Homo sapiens: one gene and its partners. The protein of the gene in region 1 purifies or fractionates together with the protein of each later gene. This does not show direct contact. Each region holds a gene or a part of one and is shown on either strand. Other genes may lie near its edges.

Region 1 (2,314 bases):
CTGAGGGCTAGGAAGAAAGGAAAACAAGGGAAAAGAGGAAGTAATTATTCTTATTTCTTTTTAGTCTGCCTCAATCTTCAAAAGAGCATTTTACCTACAGGGATGCTTTGGGGTTTTTTGGGGTTTGTTCTTTTTGTTTTGTTTTGTTTTTGTTGTTTTTATGTTTTGAGTTTTTGTTTTGTTTTTTTTTTTTGAGACGGAGTTTTGCTCTGTCGCCAGGCTAGAGTGCAGTGGCCTGATCTTGGCTCACTGCAACCTCCGCCTCCCAGGTTCAAGCGATTCTCCTGCCTCAGCCTCCTGAGTAGCTGGGTCTACAGGTGGGCGCCACCACGCCCAGCTAATTTTTGTATTTTTAGTAGAGACGGGGTTTCACTATGTTGGCCAGGATGGTCTCAATCTCTTGACCTTGTGATCTGCCTGCTTCAGGGATGCTTTTGTAAACGCACGGCTTGGTTCTATTTCAAAATAGTCTAACTTAATAGGAAAAAAAAAACAAGACATGTAGTTCAATAATATTTTATTGTCAATAGCATAGGAAAAATTCAATATTGAATCTCAGAACAAGAAGAACCTATTTACAATGCAGGTCAAGGAAGAGATGGGAGAAGGAATGTCACAAAATTTTTGGTAAATACATATTTTTTATAGAGAAGTAATCCATGAACCTGCAACACGGATAGCTTATCCAACCAACTTTACAAATTACTATTAATATAAGTTACATGCTTGCCATCTAAAGTAACTAAACCCATAGACTGAAAAACTATGTGTCAAGGTAACGTGAGCACTTTAATCACTTTACTTATATTTTCTAAAGGCAGTAGTTTCCTCTCCTTTTCCCGCTATCATATTAGATGAAGAGACAAGTTCCTTCAACACAAATTCTGATATCGGCTATTGTGAGAATCCCTGTGCAAGTCAGCTAGAAGCCCCTGCCACCAGTCTAGTGCCAACCAAATGACCAGATGGGACAGCTATCAAAAATGAAAGTGAATTTATATTAAGATCTGAACTTCCTCTTGGGGTCTTGCATTTCAGCTACTAGAGGTCTATAATTCCTTATCCAACATTCCACAATCTGAAAAGCTCTGCGAACGAAGTGTTTTTGTAAGTTGGTGGCATACGCATTTGGCAGCAAATTTTGACCCCTTATGGGCTACTTAGTCTTTATGTATCCATTTTGTCTGAATATTCTACATTTTGTTGCAGCATATTAAGGTGTTGATTTATAGGGTGCTGCCCCAGATCTGATCCATGAAGTTCTATAACATACAGTGTATGTAAAATATTATCTTTTGAAAATCCCCAAAATTCAGAATTTTAATAAACACCTGCCTGCCAGGGCTTAACATAAGGACTTCTGGACCTATAGTAGCCTGAGCATGTGCCCAAGTTTCACTGGAGCCAGGGCAGTTTCGTGGGTCCCATGCACTACACTTTCTTCAGTCTTTCAGGGAAGCGAGAATGTCTGGAACATTCTCTATCCCAAAGAAGGAAAGCATAGTGCTGGGAAGAAGAGCTTCCAAATCTTCCTTATAGGAATTTTCTTTGTGGAAGACTGTATTTCTGCCAACTACCCCGGACAATTTGACAAATAATGAATAAATATTTTTCCTCTAACGTGATTCCTTTTCATTAAAAGCGTATGTCATTGTCTTATGGGAAAAAAGGAAACAAAAGATAGAATTGGAAAAAAAAAAAAGGTCTATCTGTGTGAAGGCTACATATGACAAGTACTGGCGGCTTCCTGATCCAGCAACATTAGCAATTTATTGTATCTAGAAAATGAATCTCTGGATGCAGAGTTTACAGAAATCGGCATCCACAGAAAAGTCAGGGAGGACTTAACATGGGCTATGCCACTTAAGGAGAACAGAATTTGCCAAAGAAAATAATGTTTCGAGTTTTGTTGTGCCTGATGATGTAAATAAAGGGATGGTCAGCATTCAATTCATCCTTGTGCTGCAGGATCCGTGCTCCTGGCACCTCTATGGAATCCCCACCATCTTCAGTTATTTCTAAGCACACTTTGTGGATAACATTTGATAGGGCCACTCCCTTGGTCTCTGACATTCCAGAGAAATCAGATGTGTCTTCACTGAAGATATGTTTCAGCCCTAGATTTTCCAGACAAGCCTTGGGATCAATCATCTTTTCCACCTTAAATTTTGGAATGGAGAGTTTGACCTTGGCATTGGCCATGGTGCTGGGATTAGTCCACTGTGACAGTGACTCTGAGTTGAGTTGTTTTTCAATCTGAAGGACAAAAATGAAAAGAAATTATTTTTATTTATTTCCAACTGTAAAAGACCTG
Region 2 (3,500 bases), on another chromosome or scaffold:
CAGGTGGATCATTTGAGGTCAGGAGTTCGAGACCAGCCTGGACAACATGGTGAAACCCTGTCTCTACTAAAAATGCAAAAATTAGCTGGGCATGGTGTCACTTGCCTGTAATCCCAGCTACTCGACAGGCTGAGGCAGGAGAATTGCTTGAACCTAGGAGATGGAGGTTGCAGTGAACCAAGATTGCACCACTGTACTCCAGCCTGGGCAACAGAGTCTCAAAAAAAAAAAAAATTTTATTCTGAATGTTGTAAAAAGCACCAACCTCAAAGCCAAACAGATCTGGGTTTGAATTTTTTTTCTTAAATAAAGGTGGGATTTTTTTTGTATTTTTTGTAGAGATGGGCTTTCACCATGTTGGCCAGGCTGGTCCCAAACTCCTGTGCTCAAGTGATCCTCCTGCCTTGGACTCCTAAAGTGCTGGGATTACAGCTGTGCGCCACCATGCCCGGCCTGGGTTTGAATTCTGACTCCATCCCTCACAGATTTGACCCTGGGCAAATCCCTTCACTTCCCAGATGCCTCATCGAGTACTTCTGGGGGCTGATGTGAAGGTTAAATGCAAGAACGAGTGTACAGTTCCTAAGCTAGGACCTTGCCCGCAGGGGGTCCTGCAGTGTTCTAGATCCTGCAGCTCTCTCGTAGCTTAAAGATTCTTAGGAGCGAGGGCCAGGTCTATACTCTTTATGTTGTTCCCTGCACCAAAGCATACTAAATTGTCCTGGATTTTAAACTTTATTTTGCAAAGATCAGGAAGTAGGAAGGGGAGAGGTGGGCCAGTCTGGCTAAAACCCCACCAGCCCCACCCCTTCCTCGCTGGGCTGGCCCCTCTGATTTAGATTAGGATCCTGGAAAGACCACTCCCTGGCATGTTTGCCTTTCAAAGCCCAGAATGTTCTCAATCACCCTTCACTGTTGAACCAGGCTGCATTTTCAACAACCCATCCTCCCTTCTCCACTGATAAGATAAACCTGGGTCTGCTGTAGGACGCTGGAAACCTCCTCCGGTTTACATTTCCCATTTCCCTTCTCCCAGAGCCAGACTCAGTGGCTTCCCTCCCCGGTGGGGGGCTGGGTAGGAACTGTTCTCACACTGAGTTTCTGCCAAAGTTCTGCTTCAAGTGAGGAGCAGTTTTCCTGAATAAACACCAGGCCAGACTCTGGGCCAAATGCTTTATAACCTCCTGACCAGAAACCCGAAGCTCGACTTACATAACACACGTAAACGCTCTTGGGCGGGGCGTGGTGGGGGGATGTCCTAGCTCCCACTTCCTCTTTATAGTTTCCAGAAGCACAGTGATGTCTGGAGTTGACATTTTCAATCTAGACTGTAGGCAAAACATAAAGATTTTCTATCAAAATACTCTAATTCCTACATATTTTAATAAATACATCTCACTTTGTTTTGTAAAAATTGGATTCATTCACCCACGCATTCCATAAGCTTTCACTGACAGCCCTGGCCACTCCAGCACAGGGAGTCCAAGAGCCAAGTCCTGGCTTGTGGGAGCTGAAGTCCTGGTGAGGAGAGGGCGCAGGAAACAAGCAAAACCAAGCAAGTGAGAAGCAGGAGGAGGCTTGGCCAGCTGAGGGGTCTGAAGGGTGACTGCTAGGAAGAGCCTGGGGACAGGAGGAGTGGCTGCAGGGTGTAGGTGAGGGGAGAGCGGGGGGCTCGCGATTCTACCTGCTGTGTGCCAGGATCTGCACTTGATGCTGGGAGGACCCAGGAGACCAGAGAACCGGGACACTGCCGTGTCCTTTCTAAGTGGGGGTAATAGACTTGCTGTTTGCTAACTCGCTTTTCTCAGTTTCTCTTGGACGTTATTCCACAGGCAGCTCTGCCTCATGTTAAGCCACATAGCGTTCCTCAACACGGTCAGGCCATGGTTTATTTAACGATTTCCTACAAATGCACTTTTAGGACAAGTGATCGCCATTCCAGCAACAGCTGTGGCGAACCCTTTCACATGCGTTTTTCCAAACATGGGGCAGATTACTGTGTAGAAATTAGAACTACTGAGTTAGAGGGTAACAGGATCCCTCTTCACCTTGGCTATCTTGTTCTCCATGCCAGGCAGAGACTTAGTGGTGATTGTGGTGGTCGAGGGGCTCAGGAGCTGGGGCAGGGTCAGTGCCCAGAGCAGGACAACTGGACCTTGGGGGCGGAGGTCAGACCAAGGCCAGGAGAGAATGAAATTCTGGCCACCACCCCCAGACCTCATGACAATGGGTGGTTATCATCTGCCCAGGGTCTCCAATGAAAGGCTAAACTGTGTTCAGTAATCATCTGCCCAGGGTCTCCAATGAAAGGCTAAACTGTGTTCAGTAGTTCTGATTTAAGGAGGCAGGATACATTCTAGAAAGATTTCAGTTCAAGCTTTGATGCATGAGAGAACTGGACATGTTACCTAGGAAATCCCCGTCCCTGGAACACCGTATTTTCCCAAAGAGTGAGCAAGCTAATGGCGCGGTTTTGCAGCCTGGGATGATCCCAACGGCATGTGCTCTTTCACTTGCTAATCTGCGGTTAGGTGATTATGTCCGATGGAAAGCAGATGCCATTGCTTGTATTACAAGATTCCAGGGAGTAAAGTTCAAGACAAACACGGAATGCCACACACATTCCCTCTTCCCCACACATAATCCAGAACCCCAGGTTAGTTGGGGATCAAGGCGAGGGGCAGTCATCTCCCCAGGCTTGCTCGGGACACTCCCGAACCAAGACTAACCCAGGCAGACAGACGCCAGCCCTCTGCCCCACTCCCCCACCCCAGGGCCTTTTTTCACCACTTCAAAGATGGGAGTTTCAATTCCACTTTGGACTGTTTGCCAGACAGGCGCGGTTTCAACTTGTTCTGCTTACGGTTTGGCAACCTCTATCTTGCTGCAATGGACTTTCCCTGAGCCAGTTTCACCACTCCCTATGCGTCCCCATGTTCCCACTCTTTTAAACTTCCAAATACTTTGCAATAAGGTCCTTTTGAGTAGAAATACTGGGTTCTCATTAAGCAACCCTTTACCTCACTTCTGGAGCACAAAACTGTAAACATGGTTTCGTAAATGGCAACCATTCATTATTCAATAAATATTTACCCAACAGTGATCCTATGCTAAGGTGCTAGGTGCCAGGAATGCAAAAGTGAACAATACAAACATGGCTCCTCCTCTCTGATTTTAAAATTCTATTCAATTGTCCCTTAAATGTTTATTAATACATTCTTATGGTCTGATCATTATTCAGGGAGGTCAAGTTCACATTAAGTTATAAGTTTGAAAGTGGGCTTCAAATTCTGCCCTGCCCAACCTTCACACACATGCCCTTAGTTATACTTAATGTGAACTTGACCTCCCTGAGCCTCAGTTTCCTCACCCGCAAGACGGGACAGCAATACTACCAGGCTTATAGAGTTGCGGGTAGGATGAAAGGTGAAATGCAGGTAGAAGTCCTCAGTAGAGGGCCTGATGGAAAATAGGTGATGAATAATCATGATTACTGGAGC
Region 3 (3,500 bases), on another chromosome or scaffold:
GTCACCCAGGCTGGAATGCAATGGTACACAATCATAGCTTACTGCAGCCTCGACCTTCCAGGCTCAAGCAGTCCTCTCACTTCAGCCTTCTAAGTAGCTGGGACCATAGGTGCACGCCACCACACCTGGTTAAGTTTTTTTAAAAAAATTTCTTACAAAGTTTTGCTATATGCCCAGGTTGGTCTTGAACTCCAGGGCTCAAAGGATCCTCTCACCCCGGTCTCCCAAAGTGCTGGGATTACAGGCCTTCATGCCCAGCTGTTTTTTTTTGTTTCTGTTTTTGTTTTTTTGCATTTTAATCTAAATTTTAACATTTCAAAATACAGTTTTTAAAATTACAATTTCTACTACAAATTAAAATCCTTTCAAGCATGTTTTTGTATATGTTAACAAAAGTCCGTTGTTAAATATAGTTGAAATGTGCTTTTTCTCTACAAAACACAATATGCTACAACATCTTTTTGGGCAAATAATACGGATGGAGCAAAAAAATTGTAGAATGCTGTCAGGTTTGCCTTATCACATTTGATCCACCTTTAACAGTATTGAAGTTCACTTCAGCTATTAAAAATTCTTTGTTTACAGCTCTGCAGGCAGAATACCTTTGATACTTTGTTAGAAATTGGAACTGAAAATTTTTCGCTTTAATCTTTTCCATGGACCCAATTGTTTTGATTACAAGTGGTTTCTTAGGAATGCTCCTTTTATTAGTCCTTTCTCATGCTGCTAATAAAGACATACCCGAGACTGGGTAATTTATAAAGGAAAGAGGTTTAATTGACTCACAGTTGCGCAGGGATAGGGAGGTCTCAGGAAACCTATAAACATGGTGGAAGGGGAAGCAAACACATCATTCTTCACATGGTGGCAGGAAGGAGAAATGAGAGCGAAGTGAAGGAAAGCCTCCTTATAAAACCATCAGATCTTGTGAGAACTCACTATCACGAGAACAGCATGAGGGCAACCGCCCCCATGATTCGCCGGGTCCCTCTCACAACATGGGAATTATGGGAACTACAAGATGAAATTTGGATGGGGACACAGCCAAACCATATCACTCCTGTTGCTTTCTTAATGGATAGTTTTCATCCTGGGGTGATTTTCAAGATGGTGGATTCCTTTGTTTCGTTTCCAGCAACTCTGGTTCTGAAAATGGGGTATGTGTATCCAGGAATGTGAATTTTGCATATCACCTCTGTGACTCTGATGTAGGTAGTTCATAGACCACGGTTTTCATGAATAGAATGTGCATGGTATTGCATACCTCCATTGTTTTCTTAGAATAAATTACTAGAAGTAATAAGATACTTGGGCAAAGGAACTGTAATTTTACCAGAAATAGGTGTATCTAAATTTTTCTGAACTATGAACTACAAGGAAAATTTTGACACTTGCAGAATGTTATTCTGGCCTTTGTAGTAGTCGTTGTGTACCATATTTGTCCCTGAATGTATGTAATTATATGAAAGCTATGAGTAGAATTTGTATTGAATGACTGTCAAAATTTGCTTATAAATGATAATTTGCTTATAAATCAACTCTGAAAGAGTTGGATTTATCAATCATGTAAAAAAGACTTGGTACCCCTTTCATATGTTCATATTAACAAATGGGGCTAATTATGTTTTATTGAGTACATTTTGATTTGTTCCAGTAGCCGGATCGAGCTGGGAGATGTGACACCACACAATATTAAACAGTTGAAAAGATTGAATCAGGTCATCTTTCCAGTCAGCTACAATGACAAGTTCTACAAGGATGTGCTGGAGGTTGGCGAGCTAGCAAAACTTGGTATAATATAGTTTTTTTTTTGTCCTCCCTTCTTTTCTTTCTTTTTGTTCTTGAACCCTAGTTTTTTATAGAGCAGAAGAAGTTAACTAATTTAGTTTGTTTATTTTATAAGTGAGGAAATGGGAGTGGTCTAGGTTGTGAGAAAAATCTCAGAGAAATCAGTTGAATAAAACAGTTGAATTTTAAAAAGAAATGCTTAGTGTTCTTAGTGTATACCTGTGTGTTTTCACTTTAAGCTATACTCTAGAGGAGGCTTAAACTTCCTAAGATGGCATAAGAGCTTTGAGATCATTGATATTCATGAAATAGTTGATGAAATTTAATGTTGATAGGAACAGTGTAGTCCTTTAAAAGGGAAAAAGATTAAATGTGTTATTCTGTCTGTTCAACATTATATCTTTATGTTTTCCTTGGCAGCCTATTTCAATGATATTGCTGTAGGTGCAGTATGCTGTAGGGTGGATCATTCACAGAATCAGAAGAGACTTTACATCATGACACTAGGATGTCTGGCACCTTACCGAAGGCTAGGAATAGGTAAAAAATTGTGGTTTTTTTACTTCTTCAGAGAAGCATAAACATATTATTTGTTAATGTGTCTGACCTAGTAAGTTAATTTGGGTCTTTTTAAGGAATACTGAGAAAGGGTTACTGAATTATGTAAAATATGGTGAAAAATAACTAGTGTTTATTAACATAATTCTATTGGAAGCCCTACATAGATTTGCTGTTTACGTCCCCTTCTGCTTTTTCTGTTTTTCTTCTACCCGGAAGTGCTTGTTTAAAAAGGTTAGTCTTCTGCTAACAGTTTTAAACATACGTAGCTATTGTAGAGAGAGAACACAACTTTGGAAAATAAGGATATCTAGTGTATACCTCATAAATTCTTTTAGGACTCAATAAGTAGTTCAGATGGCAAGTGGATAGATACATAATTTAAAGGTTGATTTATGAAGTCACGTGTTTGTTATTTATTTTATTAACAGGAACTAAAATGTTAAATCATGTCTTAAACATCTGTGAAAAAGATGGTACTTTTGACAACATTTATCTGTAAGTAAAATAATATTTAATGTTCTTATCAAAGGGGTTTAATTGGCAGGAGAAATCTTTACTAGAAACTTTAAAATCTGGTCACTTATTGTGCCTTTGGAAACACTGTGGAAGTAGTTGTTACAAAGTATTCGAGTAGTTGTTAGTTTTGTTTAGTTTTGTTTTATTAATAATAGTAGATTAGGAACCTGAGATAGAACACATTGCTTTATTATATTAGGATGAGAGCACCAAAGTCACAGGGATGAAATCAGGATTAAAACTCAGGCCTTCAGAATTCAAGACTATTAATACTACTTTTCTCATGCAAAACCTTGTGTGTTTTGTTCAAGGCTATGTTGATAGCTTTGAACATTGTAGTAGATCATTTGTAGTAGAGTTTAATAATCAAAATCAGAGATTACCTAGCTGAGATTGTACTTGAATCTCAAGAGGCTGTAGATAAAGAGTTATGACTAAGATCACAGTCATGGATGTTCATAATTTAGTTTGGCCATGTGAGAGATTGAATTATACAGTGTTATTTTGGGAGTAATTGAGAAAGCTTGCGTTTTTAATTTTTAAAACATACCATGTATTTTATCAATCAGAAGGAAGATATATCTTCAAGCTTTGAGACCCTAGTTTTTTATTTTTCATCATTTTTTTTCTGTGTG
Region 4 (3,500 bases), on another chromosome or scaffold:
CCAGCCTCTGTCAGCAGTTTTTGATGATGCAGGCTTCCCCCTCACTATCCTTCAACTATACTGTGTAGTTTCATATTTTTATCTTCATCAGCCTACTAAGTGAAAATGTCTATCTTGTTTTCATTTGTATTTTTTAAATTATAAGTTAAGCATCTTTTACTGTAAGTAATTTTATTTCTTTTTCTATGGGCTGATTTTTTTTCTTCTTCTTTTTTTTTTTAAAGAGATGGTCTCATTTTGTCACCAAGACTGCAGTACAGCCGTAGGATCTTAGCTTGCTGCAGCCTCAAATTTCTCGGCTCATACAATCCTCCCACCTCAGCCTCCTAGATAGTTGGGATTATATGCATGAGCCACTGCACCGGCTCTGAGGACTAATTTTTACTATCCTATGCCTATTTTATTTTTCTCCAATTATTGGTCTTTTACTTGGCTTACTTGATATATTAAGAAAATTTGACCTTCCTCATACTTATCACTTGACTATTTAAAAAACATATTTTCCCCAACTTTTTGTTCATTTTGCTTAATTTATGGACTCTTTTCTTCTCTCATTGTAATAATCCATTATTCTTCTCTAGTCAAATTCATTATTTTTTCCCCTTAGTACTTCTATCTTGTTTAAAAAGTCTTTTTCTACTCTTAAGATTAGAAAAAAAATTCTCCCATATATTCTTCTAATTCCTCTGCAGTCTTATGTATAAGTTTTTGACCCAACCAGAATTTATTTTGTGAAGAAGATAATAACCTTTTGTTTCGAATGGCTAGCCAGTTATCCCAAACCACATATTAAATGATCAATATTTTCTCCTCCATTGATTCAAATGCTGACTTTATTATATATTAATGTCTACAAAAGTATGGATCTACTTCTGGACTCTGTTCTCTTCCACTGATTTATCAGTTTTACCAGTATATCCATATACCACAACCAAACTGTCTTAATTACAATTGGCTTACTTTTTTTTTTTTTGTGACAGAGTCTCACCCTGTCAGCGGGCTGGAGTGCGGTGGCACGATCTTGGCTCATTGCAACCTCCCACTCCTGGGTTCAAGCAATTCTCATGCCTCAGCCTCCCGAGTAGCTAGGATTACAGGCATGTACCACCACACCCAACTAATTTTTGTATTTTTAGTAAAGATGGGGTTTCACCATGTTAGCCAGGATGGTCTTGATCTCCTGACCTCATGATCTGCCCGCCTCAACCTCCCAAAGTGCTGGGTACATTTTAATATCTGGTAGTGTCAGAACTCCAGATAACTTCCCCTGCCCTGCTCTTCTTTTACACAAGTTTCCAAAATATTCTTGTGTGTTCATTTTTCAACACCAACCTTACAGCCAGTTTATTTAGTTAAAAAAAAAAAATCAGTTAGCATTTAAATTTAGTTTTAGACTGACAAGAGAGAAATGACATCTTTATAAAAATAATTCTTCTTAGTAAAGGTCATAGTTTGTCTCTCTGAAGAGTTTTAAAGTTTTCTTCTCATTGGCCCTATATATTTGTTCTTATTATTTTTGCTATATATGGAATCTTTCATTTTTTTAAAGTAGCTGTTATAGTGTGACTTCATCTACATGAGCAGAGATGATTTTGTTTTCTTTCAAAACTGTATATATTTTACTTCTGCTGATTATAGTGACTAGGTATTTCAGAATGTTATTAAAATAAAGTGAAAAGGGGAGCCATCCTTGTTTTTTCTCTGACTTCAATGGAAATAGTTTTTTTAAAACATAGATTACCCTACTTACACATGTTCAATTCAAAATGAGAAAATTAGGACGCTATCAGTATTTTAAAACTATTATTTTAAAGTTTTAGTTCATTAAAACAACAGATGAAGTGGTAACATTCTTGGATATTATTATTTTGAGACAGGGTCTCGCTCTTTCACCCAGGCTGAAGTACAGTGACATGATCATAGCTCACTGCAGCCTTGAACTTCTGGGCTCAAGTGATCCTCCTGCCTCAGTCTCCTGAGGAGCTGGGACTACAGGCATACGCCACCATGCCTGGCTAACTTTTTCTATTTTTTGTAGAGGTAGGGTCTCACTATGTTGATCAGGCTGGTCTTGAACTCCTGAGTTCAAATGATCCTCCCATCTCAGACTCCCAAAATGTGTTGGAATTACTGGCACGAGCCACCATGCCTGGCCTCTTGCATATTACTAACAATTCTAAAGACAGTATTAAGCAATTTGCCGTCATAATTAGCTAAGTAAGTTCCAAAAGAGCTACTACAATGGAATTACCTTACTCAGGAAGTTCACTTCTAAAACGATGGCGTAACTCAAATAACTAATTGTATTCTGCCAAAATAAGGTATGTTGGAGGATGATTTTTAAGTTTCTTAATTAAGAAAAATTTTATCTTAAAGGTTATTAAGGCATATGAATTCTATCTTTTGATCAAGAATTTAGATTATATCATCTTTATGGCATAGTATTTTTTACTATCATTGTTTCTAATCAAAGGAAGACTGCTGGAATACTCACGTAATTGCACTACAGCACTTTCTCCATTTGTTGCAATGTAGTGTAGAGTTTGTTCTCCATAGTAGGAAGCTCCTGTCTTGTCAACATCTGTGCTAGCTATTACCAACACAGCAGTAGCTATAACAGTAAAAACTTTAATTAGATTTAAAACACAAATGGGCATTGATTCTTCTGTTATACACATAGGAATATAGCCTAAATTAACAACTGATAAACAAAGGGAGGGATAAAATATACTTAACATACCTTTTTTATTCCACAGCATTGTAACTTTATCTGCCTTAAAGAAACTTTTATTAGCTAAAGCTGCATGAGGTCCAGCAAAGTTGGGGTACTGATATAATCTAACAAATGAAGGTGCACCTTTACTTCCTGGAACATAGACAGCCACCTAAGATACATAGACATAAATCATTACTTAATTTTTTGAAGAATAAAAACTGAGATGGACATGTTTTTACAATCACAAAAAACTAGGAAAAGGTTTAAACACATAATATTACACATAAACAAAAACAGCAATTACCTTGTATGGTTGGGGTCCAGGTGATAATACAAAATCATTAATTTTTTGCAAATGCAATTTATTTGCAATTGTGTCTAAAAAAAAGAGTAAATTAAATCAGATTGATGAGAGAACCTAAAAGGAACATGTTAAACTCTGAATACATTATCAAAGATCACTATAACTACACACCAATACTACTCACTGTAGTCTCCTCCTGGTGAGATACAGTAACACAGTGGAAAAAGCATGGGGTAGGAGCAAGACAAATGTAGGCTTCAATTTCTACTCAGTCATTTACTTGCAGTGTGAGCTTAGGCAAGTAATGGGATTATACCACCCAACTCTCAGTAATTGGTTTTAAGAGAAGAGTGCCAGGCACATGGTAGGTATTTGATAAATGTCAGTTATCCTCTCTTCAATCGCTGAAATAAAGTGGTCTTAGAGCCTATTAGAAGGAAAAGATCAACCTTGGCCTGCTACTGCAGAATGTGGATATGG
Region 5 (3,500 bases), on another chromosome or scaffold:
ACAAGAAGTCAGCTATTCCGAGATTTTAAGAAAGAACATTCTAAGCAGAAGAAATAGGTAAAAACTCTGAAATGAGAGCAAGCTTGCCTTCTTGCGAAACAGCAAACAAGTCAGTGTGGCTTGAAGATAGTAAGCGAAAACGGAGACTGGTGGGAGTTGAAATTGGAGAGATAATTGGGAGACAGGACACATTGGCCCTCTCAAGCATAGTGAGGTGTTTGAATTTTGTTTTAAGAGTAAAGGAAATCCACTGAAGGGTAGTCCAAATTCAGGGAATAATTTCTGACTGCATTTTAAGATATTTAGACTGTTTTATGGAGAATAAAGGGGAAGGGCAATACTGGAAATAAGGAGACTAGCTAGGTCTTTGAAATAGCCCAGGTGAAATGTGATGATGGTTTGGCTTGAGATTGTACTGATTGAAATAGTAAGAAATGATCAGGTTTGAGATATCTTATGAAGGTAGAGCTAACAGGTCTCAGATGGAGAAAACTGGGGAATGATTTAAGCAAGAAGATCCCTAGATTTCAGGCCCAACCCAGTAAATGATGGTAGCGGAAAATGAGTTAGGAAAGACAGGAAGAATAGATTAAGCAGGGGTAATTGAATTCTCTTTGGAGTTTGTTATGTTTGTGATACCAGTTAAGACATCAGAATAGTTATTGTTTTGGCAGTTGTATACAATCTGGAGGTCAGAGGAAAGATCACACGTGGAGAAATAAGTTTCAATATAATCAATATATATTCATCAATAGGATTGAATGAGTTTATCTGGGAAGACTGTATATATAGAGAAAGTTCATGGTACAGAATTGCTGAAATACAGATCCATTAGAATATATGTACCAAACAGGCGGGCACAGTGGCCCACGCCTGTAATCCTAGCACTTTGGGACGCTGAGGCGGGTGGATCTCTTGAGGTCAGTAGTTCAAGACCAGCCTGGCCAACATGGTAAAACCCCATCTCTACTAAAATTACAAAATTAATTGGATGTGGTGGTGTGCACTTGTAGTCCCAGCCACTTGGGAGGCTGAGGCATGAAAATCGTCTGAAACCAGGAGGTGGACGTTGCAGTAAGCCAAGATCGTGCCTCTGCACTCCAGTCTCGGTAACAGAGTGAGACTCCCATCTCAAAAAAGAAAACAAACAAACAAACAACAACAACAACAAAATATATATATATGTATTTATGTACCAGTGATAAAACAACACCTGAGATCTGAGAATAAAAGATGATGAGCTCTGTAATCTTAAAATTTACACAGGATAGAACAAGCAATCCGATAATTTAATTTCAGGCCATTTAAAAAATATAAGTAAAGTGGTTGTTAATAAAATATATGTTTGGTTTGTGAAAACCTTTAGTAACTGGTGAATCTGATCACACAAGTAATCAAATATTACATTATAAAATGTGAATATTTAATAACCATGTTTTTTTTTCCAGCACAAATAAAAATTTGCCCATTATGTCAACAGCATCTGTGGAAATCGATGATGCATTGTATAGGTAAGAATCTCATAGAAACTGAAACTTATTTTCCCCATTAATTGTTCTCAAATAATCAAGTAGTCTCTTTGAAGATACCATTCAGCCTATGCAGAATTATATGTGTGTGTGTGTGTGTGTGTGTGTATGTATATATGTATGTGTGTATATATATGTGTGTGTATATATGTGTATATATGTATATGTATATATATGTGTATATGTGTATATATATGTGTGTATATATGTATATGTGTGTGTATATATACACACATATATATAAAGAGTTCCTCTCAAGTTAAAATTAGGGTTTCTGTGATTTTTTTTATCTACATTCGGATAATATTTAAATCTCAGTTGTTTTAGGTTTAGGTGATAGGACTAAGAAGGATTTTGCTGCCCTTGCAAAATAACCCTTTCATTTTTGGACAATAATACGTATTTAAGTTCTTGATAGTGCAGGAGTTGATGAAGAATAATATTTCACTTTAGTCATACAATAACATCTAGAGAATATTACTTCATTGTAATCTCATTAAAATATTTCCTGTTCTGTAATTTATAGACAGTGGAGAAATACTGTGTGATTGAAGAGTTGTAATTTGAATGGAATTTGATGGGACTTTTAAAACTATGCTTTTTCAGGAAATTGGAATACTTTTTTAGTAATTAAAGTATTGTATGATTGAATAGTTGTGATTTGAATGAAATTTGATGAGACTTTTTAAACTATACTTTTTCATGAAATTTGAATACTTTTTAAAGTAAAGAAAAAGATGCAGAGTCAATAATGGGCACTTTATTAGGAGCTAATACATACCATCTGGCATGTTGAGTCCAAATCCTGTTTTGTACTCTATGCTTGGGAAAAGAGATAGAAGACTAACAATCTTGCTCATGTGAAAATTATTTTAAAGATGATTTCTTGATTATAAAATATGGTTTAGAAGTCACCTTAAGTTGTTGTATAAGGGTTAACTGAATTAGTACATTTAAAGCACTTAAAACAGTGTGTAGCACAGGGTTATCTATTATTATTAAATGCCTGGTACTGTTTTAGGTATTTGGATTACAGTAGTGAGTTTTTAAGACCATACATTTTTTTGATAGGAGTGGCAGACAAACAGTTAATGGTAAGTGATTTGAAGAAACTATGACAGGTTAATGAGTTAGGCAGTGACCTAAGGATAAGAGTAGCCATTTTATTGATAGGGTGATCAGAAATGATGTGTGTGATATTTGTAATACAATATTTTAATAGAGGCTTAAGTGATAAGAAGTCAACTATTTCAAGATTTTTAAGAAAGAACATTCTAAGCAGAAGAAATAGTGTAAAATCTCTGAAATGAGAGCAAGCTTGCCTTCTTGCAAAACAGCAAGCAGGTCAGTGTGGCTTGAAGATAATAAGCAAAAAGGGAGAGTGGGACTCTTACGTTGGGATTCTTAATCTATAATTATATTCTTAATGTCCTTTTGGTCATGTTTTTCTTGGTTTAACAAATGGCACCTCTTTGAGATAGTATTGACTAATTTTATTCATTTTTTAGTTTAATCCTTGTGAAACTTTTTTAATGTCCCTCCAACCCTATAATGCTGATAAACATAATTTTCAGTAGGCCAGTGACTAAACTTTCCATTTACAATGCTACGTAAGTAGGCTGCAGTTTGCTTTACTGAGAGTTATAGAATATAGCAGTTTAGCTGTTATTATTAGAGGTAAGCCATTTTCTTTTGTTTGACGGAGAGTATCTTTTGGTGTAGCTGTTAGCACTTGGTATGCGTGTCTTATTGCAAACATCTAGTTGTTTACCAATGTGCATATTTGAGTTTTAATATCTTCCTTAAGAATTTGTCATAGTGAGGGCAGGAAGCCAGAAATTTATGTGGGTACTAAAAGAGTGAATTATTAGGGAATACTAAAAGAGTTACTGACTACATATAGGTTTTCTTAGTAGAAATACAAAGATGTGGCCAGGCACAGTGGCTCATGCCTGTAATCCCAGCACTTTG
Region 6 (3,500 bases), on another chromosome or scaffold:
TCTTTGGTGTAATGAAAGTGTTCTGAAATTAAATAGTGATGACAATTGCACAACTATGAATACACTAAAAACTACTGAACTGTATACTTTAAAAATGTATTCCATGGTATGTCAATTATATCTCAATAAAGCTGCTATTTTTTATAAAAGCCATTAAATATTCCATATATTTTTCTAGAGAATAGTTATATAGGTGTATTCATAGGTTAAAAGAAATCATCAAGCCATATACTTAAGAATAGTACACTTCAGCCTGGTGTGGTGGCTCATGCCTGTAATCCCAGCACTTTGGGAGGCCAAGGCGGGTGGATCATGAGGTCAGGAGATCGAGACCATCCTGGCTAACACGGTGAAACCCTGACTCTACTAAAAATACAAAAACATTAGCTGGGCGTGTTGGCGGGCACCTGTAGTCCCAGCTACTCAGGAGGCTGAGGCAAGAGAATGACGTGAACCTGGGAAGTGGAGCTTGCAGTGAGCCGAGATCGCACCACTGCACTCCAGCCTGGACGACAGAGCGAGACGCCATCTCAAAAAAAAAAAAAAAAAAAAAGTACACTTCATGCACTTTACTACAAGTATCTTATACCTCAAAAAATAAGTAAACAAAAATTTATGGTGACAAATATCAGAAAAGAGGTTACCTCTAGGGAAGAATAGTTACTATCAGGGGAATGAGGGAGTCTTCAGGTGATGAAAAGATTCCATGTCTTGTTCTGGTTGGCAGCTACATGAATGTATATACACATGGAAAAATTCATTGAGCCATATACTTAAGATTATAGCACTTTGCTGAATGTGTATTATACCTTAATAATTTTTTTTTGTCTTTAAAAAGAAGCCACTTCAGTAGAATTGACAGGCAGAAACTGGGTTAAGGGGTGAATACCTTTCAAAAAGTGAAGGTAACAGTTATGGACCTTTGCCTTTATGGCTGCTTCCCTAGTGGGAAAAAGTTAGGAAAAACATATAATAGATGAGAGAAATTTGAGTGTATCGCTAGAGGAAAATCCAATTAGGAAGGGACAGAATCAAGAGGATAATTAACAGATTCAGATCTGAAATGAAGAAAGAGGGGAAAAGGTTACAGGTAATTTTGTCAAAAGGCCAAAAAGCATAGTTCTAGTTATGTTCATATAAATAAAAAGAACTTGGCCAAAGGTTCTTAGACATCTTAGATAACTTAACACGGGGAAGACACCTCATCTTAAAAGTTGATATGCTTCTGCATTTCCCACTGGGCAATGGTCCAGTGGTTTAATCAGATCAAGCAAATCAGGTGCTATGCTCTCTAGTCACTTGGTTACTAGATAAAAGGTGAATCGGGTATCTCAGATCTCAGAAAATGGAAGAGAAAAATCCTTGTGATAGAAGCCTCTCCCCCATTCCTAGCTCAGGTCTAAAAGTAAAGCCACCTCATCAGTCAGGATGAAAAGCCATTGAAAAGCCACTTTTAAATACATCTAATGCTGGAGTATAAACAACTTCCACTTTGTTGTTTATAATCTTGTTTCTGTAGACTGAGCCTGATACACAGCAGGAACTCATTGATTTCAATGATTCTAGGATTTTTCATTTTGACATCTGTGAAACTGAGATGTATTTCAAATTCAATGGCATGTTATACTGTGGTCTGCAGTATTTTTTTCTCCTCAGTGGCACATAAAATAACGGTATGAATCACAATGAGTGGCATCTTAGAACTGATTAAATATGTCACTTAATCAATGAATCAGTGACTAAAAGATCAAATTTGGAGAAGTCAGTTACCTGAATAAGAATGCTGTGTGCCCTCACTGGAAATAGTTGAAGTTCCTCCAATAGCAGTAATCCCTTCCCTCTTGTTAATTATTTTTCGGAATGTTTTGCTGATATCTTTGCTTTTTAATTCTTGCATTAGCTGGAATGGAACATAAGTAAAATTGAGAATCAGATAATCAATAAAAACCTGACAAAATGGATATTTATTTACACTTCTTTATTTGAAATGACACCAAATTAAATACTAGTCAGTTGTACTTATTGCTTGTATACACAGATAACTTTCATCATTTTACCAATAACACAAAATAGACAAATACTTGAACCCCAAACGGTGGAATAAATTTTTTATAACTAAGCTTAAATTGAACACACTGAAATTATTCTTCTTGGCTTGCCATAATCTTTTGTACTGAAAACCTAAGAAATAACTAACTACATGCTAAAGATAGAAGAATGCCTTAATGAAGATATTTTCCTGCCTGAACATCTCAAATGCATTCATGATAAAATAAGTCAGCTCTTAGAGGAAATAACATAGGCTTACAGAAACTCCCTTTCCCAATCACTCTCTCACTGGACTCACCAGAGATTGGCAAGACTCAATTCAATCAGTTCTGCTTGCAGCAAAGTGATTGGGTTTTTTTTTAAATGCAAATCTGATCTTGTCACTTCACATTCTATTCTTCCCACTTCATTGTCTTCCTATTGCTTTTAGGATAAAAACAAAAATTCGACATGGCCCTGTGTGACCTGATTCTGAGTTACTTCTCCAGCTACATTCCTTACCCTTACCATCTCAGCTCCAGTCACACAAACCTTCTTTCAGTTGCTTGAGAATATTCACCATCTCTAAAGCCACAGGGACTCTACACATGCTGTCATGTCTACCTGCCTCCTACATTATTCATTTTCCCACAACCCACTTTTATCTGTTTAACATCTTTCTTCAGAACACATCACAGTCTTCACACTGTAGGGATACCTTCCCTGAGTCCCTGGGTTATCCAGCCTTGCCTCCAAATTCAATTCCTTCTACCACAAACTCTCACAGGACCTGTACCACTCTGTCATAGCAATTCTCCAATTATCTTTTATCAATTTGTGCAATGCAGTCTTCTCCACACATATAAACTCCATGAAGACAGGAATCACGTTTCTTTTTACTCATCACATTACTCACAGTGCCTAGCAAAATTTCTAGGAAGAGAAGAGCTAAAATACCTGCTTAATCAATAAAGAATGCAAAACCAGACAATTTATATTTCATAAATATTTATTCAATTATATTAATGGTCAATAAGCATTGAACTCACCTAGTTATTCTAGGGAATGAATTACTATTATCTAAACCTGATTTCCATTCCAACAATTTGAGAATAATTTTTTCCTTTGTTTTATGAATTAGTTGTGGAAATTATTTCGATAATAATAGTTATTGTCATCATCATCATCATCATTTTAAAGCAGTCCTTTTTCTGGTCTCTGAAGCTGGATTTAACCAAAGCTAGTGATGACATTACTACAATTCTGCTCTAAGCAAGATTATCAGTAGCCCGAAAGGATTAGATTACTTACTGACACAAACTCTTCAAAACTGATTTTGCCATCTTTGTTGCTGTCAGCAACTGATAGAATTTTCTCCACAATCTCGCGCACCTTGTAGCCAGGCAGAGGAAGGCTTGCTTCCTTAAACAGGTCTTGAAGTTCATAGTCACTGACATACCCACTATTGTCAA
Region 7 (3,500 bases), on another chromosome or scaffold:
CTTTATTTCAAAGTTATTCACCTCACCGTTAATAAGGTGTATGATTAATGCTCTGTGCCAGTATTTGCAGGCCTGCCCATTGCCGGCAATGGACTTTGAGAAAACCCATTTCCTGGCACCCAAAAGTTAAATTACTCTTTTCAAAACATACCGATCTCCCCAACACTTGCAAAAGTATTACATGCACCATTTTGCCACCATTCTTTAAATCAGAACTTACATTATTAATCTACATCAGTGAATGTTAAATGAAGTCATTTTAACAAATTATGACTGTACAAATCAAAATACTACTAGTTAATATTAGACAAGAGTATCTTACAAACACTACTATTACATATTACCTTGCAATCTGAAACATTATATTTCATATTTGTGTATATTTATTTTAGATAACTGAAACTTCACAGAATTTAACAGCAAATAAAGTTTAAAAAATTTAGTTCTGTACATTAGTTCCAACTATCCCTATTTTACAATCTATAAGGCTCATGTCATAGTTCAGCACCAAAAAGATCTACACAAAACTGTTTAACCAATCTTCTTATCTATCCTGTGTGATAGTTTTGTTTGTTGTTGTTTTTTAAGGTAAAAGTCCTACTTCAGACCTTGAAGTGGAATACTTCTAGTCAGACTAGGTAAAAACTTGGGTCATACCTTATTTTCATTGAACAGATACCAAAAAAAAAAAAAAAAGGAAAAGGAAAAGAGCTGTGTTACACCATGAATTTAGGTTGTCAGCCTCTATGTTGAATTTATAACACTGAAGCATCAGAAATAGCCTAATAATGCCCTGCCCCTATTCTTCCCTTCCATTTTAAATTTTTAAAAAAGTAACCAGAAAAATGTTTCATTTATTCTTTAAAATAAGGTGCAAAGAAGGACTGCAACAACAAACTCCCTCATCCACACCTCCAATAACATCTCACTGTTGTTCAGCATAATCTACCATGAACTGATTCAGGAGCACACCTAGAGCTATATTCACAGCTCCTGAATGTACCATGTTTTCTATACCAGAAGCCTCTTCAATGGCAGTGTTTCTCTGTTCAGAGGTCATTACAATAACTTTTGTCACTGCTGGCCTGGACTTAACATTCCAGATTCCAGAGCCAGTGTTTTATTGTCCCAGCTCTTTTCTTCCTCTTTAGGATTTATCAATTTTAGAAAAAGGGCATGTTTGTTTTGCTATTTTCAAAGGGTTTGTGCGTATCACATTTTACCACATTTTACCCCAATTTTACCACACTGGGGAATGTTGTCACATTCCCCAAGCTAGAAATGTTTTCCAAAAACCACAGGTACTTTCTGTAATCTTGTTGTTCAAAGTACAAAATTCTTACATGTTAAAAAATTTTTTAATTGGAGATTAGTACCTCTGCTTTCTTCTGACAGAAGTACACAATTCATTATACCATGTTTAAAAACCAAACATCATGCATACAAATGGCCAAAGAGGTATGAAGTTTTACAGAGCCCTTAACATCATTCGAGTACATTTGGCATTGGCCAGACCACAACAGGAAGCATGTCAGCAAATAGAGCAAAGAGACTTTCCCAAGTACACGATAGTCATCCAGGCTCCATGTCAGTCACATAAAAATTTACATAACATGTAATCCTTTAAAATTATCCCCAGATATCCCATTCCTCCAACTGTTCCCATACCCCCACCCCATGCCCACCCCACCCTGAAGTCTTGCACCTCACAGAGTATCTTAATGTTCCCCATTACTAATGACAGCTGCTTCAGGTTCTGCTGCTGTGGCAGGGAGTCTTGGTACTTTCTTGGCAGGGCTTGGAATATGCTAAAATGAAAGGAAAAAAGTTGATGGCTCTTATGATTCTTTCCCCCACAAGAATCATGGCACCAATTAAAGTTTCTGTAAAGAAACTTAATAAAGGACAACTCTGGAGAAGTTTATGCTAAATATATATTTTATATAACTTTTCATGAAGGGAACTCAATATCCATTTTTCACCTTATGGTGAATTTAGTATACAATTATCCATATGGGGGGGAGAGGAAGCCTGCCACAGAGACCCACCACGTAACAGTATTTTACTTGTTACGTCTTGTATTTGCAACTCAAACAGTGGCGGTTTGACTTGCTACCTAATTTGTATAATAGCAAAAAGCAAGACTATCCATTTACCAAACTTGTAGTAAGCAGATAAATAAGTAGTTTCAAGGTTATAAAGTCCTTAGTTTATAACCTGGCTTTAATACTTACTACCTATAATCCTGGGCAAGTAATGTAACTTCTTGGAGGCTCATCTCTAAAGGGAGGACAGTATCATTTATAAACTTCAAGGAGGTTGTTGTAAGGATTAAATAAGAAAACGTAAGTAAAGTGCCTAGCAGGTAACAGGAATTCAAATCATAGCTATGATTGTTACTTCTTGACAATTTGAGGACAGATTTTGACCATGATCTGGGATGAGATGTGAAAGGATCCTTGTCCCTCTACTCCATCTCTCACAAAGACACACACCACAAATGAACCTTCTCTCTATATCAGTCTTCCTTTAAATCCTGGTATCATTAATAAAACCTAGTATTTACTGTATATTCTTTTTTTTTTTTTTTTTTTTTTTTGAGATGGAATCTTGCTCTGTCGCCAGGCTGGAGTGCAGTGGTGTGATCTCAGCTTACTGCAACCTCTGACTCCCTGGTTCAAGCCATTCTCCTGACTCAGCCTCCTGAGTAGCTGGAATTACAGGCACGTGCCACCAAGCCCAACTAATTTTTGTATTTTTAGTAGAGACAGGGTTTCACCATGTTGGACAGGATGGTCTTGATCTCCTGACCTCGTGATCTGCCTGCCTCAGTCTCCCAAAGTGCTGGGATTACAGGCGTGAGCCACCGCACCCGGCCTTTACTGTATATTCTTAAAATATTAATAATTCAAATGCAAAGCACTTTATACAATTGGAAATAGTACAGCTAGAATCTACTCCCAGAGCCCTTACTCTTCTTTACTGACATTTATTTATGTTGCTAAATCCCAGTTAGGTCTCCTAAACCCTAAGATATGGAGATGGGAACTCTTTTATTTACCTCAGTTGCTATGTTTGAATGCACAAGTCCTACTCCTTCATCCAAAGTGTCATCATTTGGAGTGGGACGCCGAGCGTAAGTTCTTCTGTGCTTTTCATCCACCCTAACTAAGTACCACGTTCCTTCAAAGAGTGAATCTATTGAACCCTGGGGAATATAGTTGACTAAAGGAAAGGGAGAGAATATCTACAATTAGTTATGATATACAATTCATCTGGTAATAAAGCTAAAGATAAGTTTCATATATCCCAATAATTTTCACTGACATCAGATTAGTACTGAGTAAAGTCTTGATATCCTTATCGTATATGTAGCATCCTTAATGATATCAGCCCTCCAAATGGGTTAACTTAAAGAACATTTAATATTTTTACCCAAATGATGGGTGTCCTCTCTGAGCTTCATGTTTTCAGCGAAGACATCTGGTGCCACACCAGTT

Evidence for each region.
Region 2: the proteins of SERPINB5 (region 1) and ALDH2 purify together in Homo sapiens (affinity purification with mass spectrometry; 3 studies listed by BioGRID and IntAct, with this or other methods). This does not show direct contact.
Region 3: the proteins of SERPINB5 (region 1) and NAA50 purify together in Homo sapiens (affinity purification with mass spectrometry; 3 studies listed by BioGRID and IntAct, with this or other methods). This does not show direct contact.
Region 4: the proteins of SERPINB5 (region 1) and EIF2A purify together in Homo sapiens (affinity purification with mass spectrometry; 3 studies listed by BioGRID and IntAct, with this or other methods). This does not show direct contact.
Region 5: the proteins of SERPINB5 (region 1) and UBA6 purify together in Homo sapiens (affinity purification with mass spectrometry, with the first as the bait; one large-scale study listed by BioGRID). This does not show direct contact.
Region 6: the proteins of SERPINB5 (region 1) and PLS1 purify together in Homo sapiens (affinity purification with mass spectrometry; 3 studies listed by BioGRID and IntAct, with this or other methods). This does not show direct contact.
Region 7: the proteins of SERPINB5 (region 1) and HMGCS1 purify together in Homo sapiens (affinity purification with mass spectrometry; 3 studies listed by BioGRID and IntAct, with this or other methods). This does not show direct contact.

Annotation. Positions count from the first base shown.
Region 1 is NC_000018.10:63,503,272-63,505,585, reverse strand, and holds the end of SERPINB5 (serpin B5), read right to left. Parts: intron 2,257-2,314; coding exon 1,864-2,256; 3' UTR 501-1,863; downstream 1-500. UniProt on the Homo sapiens protein: Tumor suppressor. It blocks the growth, invasion, and metastatic properties of mammary tumors.
Region 2 is NC_000012.12:111,773,433-111,776,932, reverse strand, and holds part of ALDH2 (aldehyde dehydrogenase, mitochondrial isoform 1 precursor), read right to left. Parts: intron 1-3,500. UniProt on the Homo sapiens protein: Required for clearance of cellular formaldehyde, a cytotoxic and carcinogenic metabolite that induces DNA damage.
Region 3 is NC_000003.12:113,722,250-113,725,749, reverse strand, and holds part of NAA50 (N-alpha-acetyltransferase 50), read left to right. Parts: intron 1-1,654; coding exon 1,655-1,791; intron 1,792-2,208; coding exon 2,209-2,328; intron 2,329-2,777; coding exon 2,778-2,844; intron 2,845-3,500. UniProt on the Homo sapiens protein: N-alpha-acetyltransferase that acetylates the N-terminus of proteins that retain their initiating methionine. Has a broad substrate specificity: able to acetylate the initiator methionine of most peptides, except for those with a proline in second position.
Region 4 is NC_000003.12:150,567,287-150,570,786, reverse strand, and holds part of EIF2A (eukaryotic translation initiation factor 2A), read right to left. Parts: intron 3,095-3,500; coding exon 3,021-3,094; intron 2,886-3,020; coding exon 2,741-2,885; intron 2,612-2,740; coding exon 2,495-2,611; intron 1-2,494. UniProt on the Homo sapiens protein: Functions in the early steps of protein synthesis of a small number of specific mRNAs. Acts by directing the binding of methionyl-tRNAi to 40S ribosomal subunits.
Region 5 is NC_000004.12:67,694,656-67,698,155, reverse strand, and holds part of UBA6 (ubiquitin-like modifier-activating enzyme 6), read left to right. Parts: intron 1-1,448; coding exon 1,449-1,511; intron 1,512-3,500. UniProt on the Homo sapiens protein: Activates ubiquitin by first adenylating its C-terminal glycine residue with ATP, and thereafter linking this residue to the side chain of a cysteine residue in E1, yielding a ubiquitin-E1 thioester and free AMP.
Region 6 is NC_000003.12:142,669,393-142,672,892, reverse strand, and holds part of PLS1 (plastin-1), read right to left. Parts: coding exon 3,340-3,500; intron 1,901-3,339; coding exon 1,771-1,900; intron 1-1,770. UniProt on the Homo sapiens protein: Actin-bundling protein. In the inner ear, it is required for stereocilia formation. Mediates liquid packing of actin filaments that is necessary for stereocilia to grow to their proper dimensions.
Region 7 is NC_000005.10:43,289,413-43,292,912, forward strand, and holds part of HMGCS1 (hydroxymethylglutaryl-CoA synthase, cytoplasmic), read right to left. Parts: coding exon 3,436-3,500; intron 3,226-3,435; coding exon 3,062-3,225; intron 1,809-3,061; coding exon 1,719-1,808; 3' UTR 1-1,718. UniProt on the Homo sapiens protein: Catalyzes the condensation of acetyl-CoA with acetoacetyl-CoA to form HMG-CoA, which is converted by HMG-CoA reductase (HMGCR) into mevalonate, a precursor for cholesterol synthesis.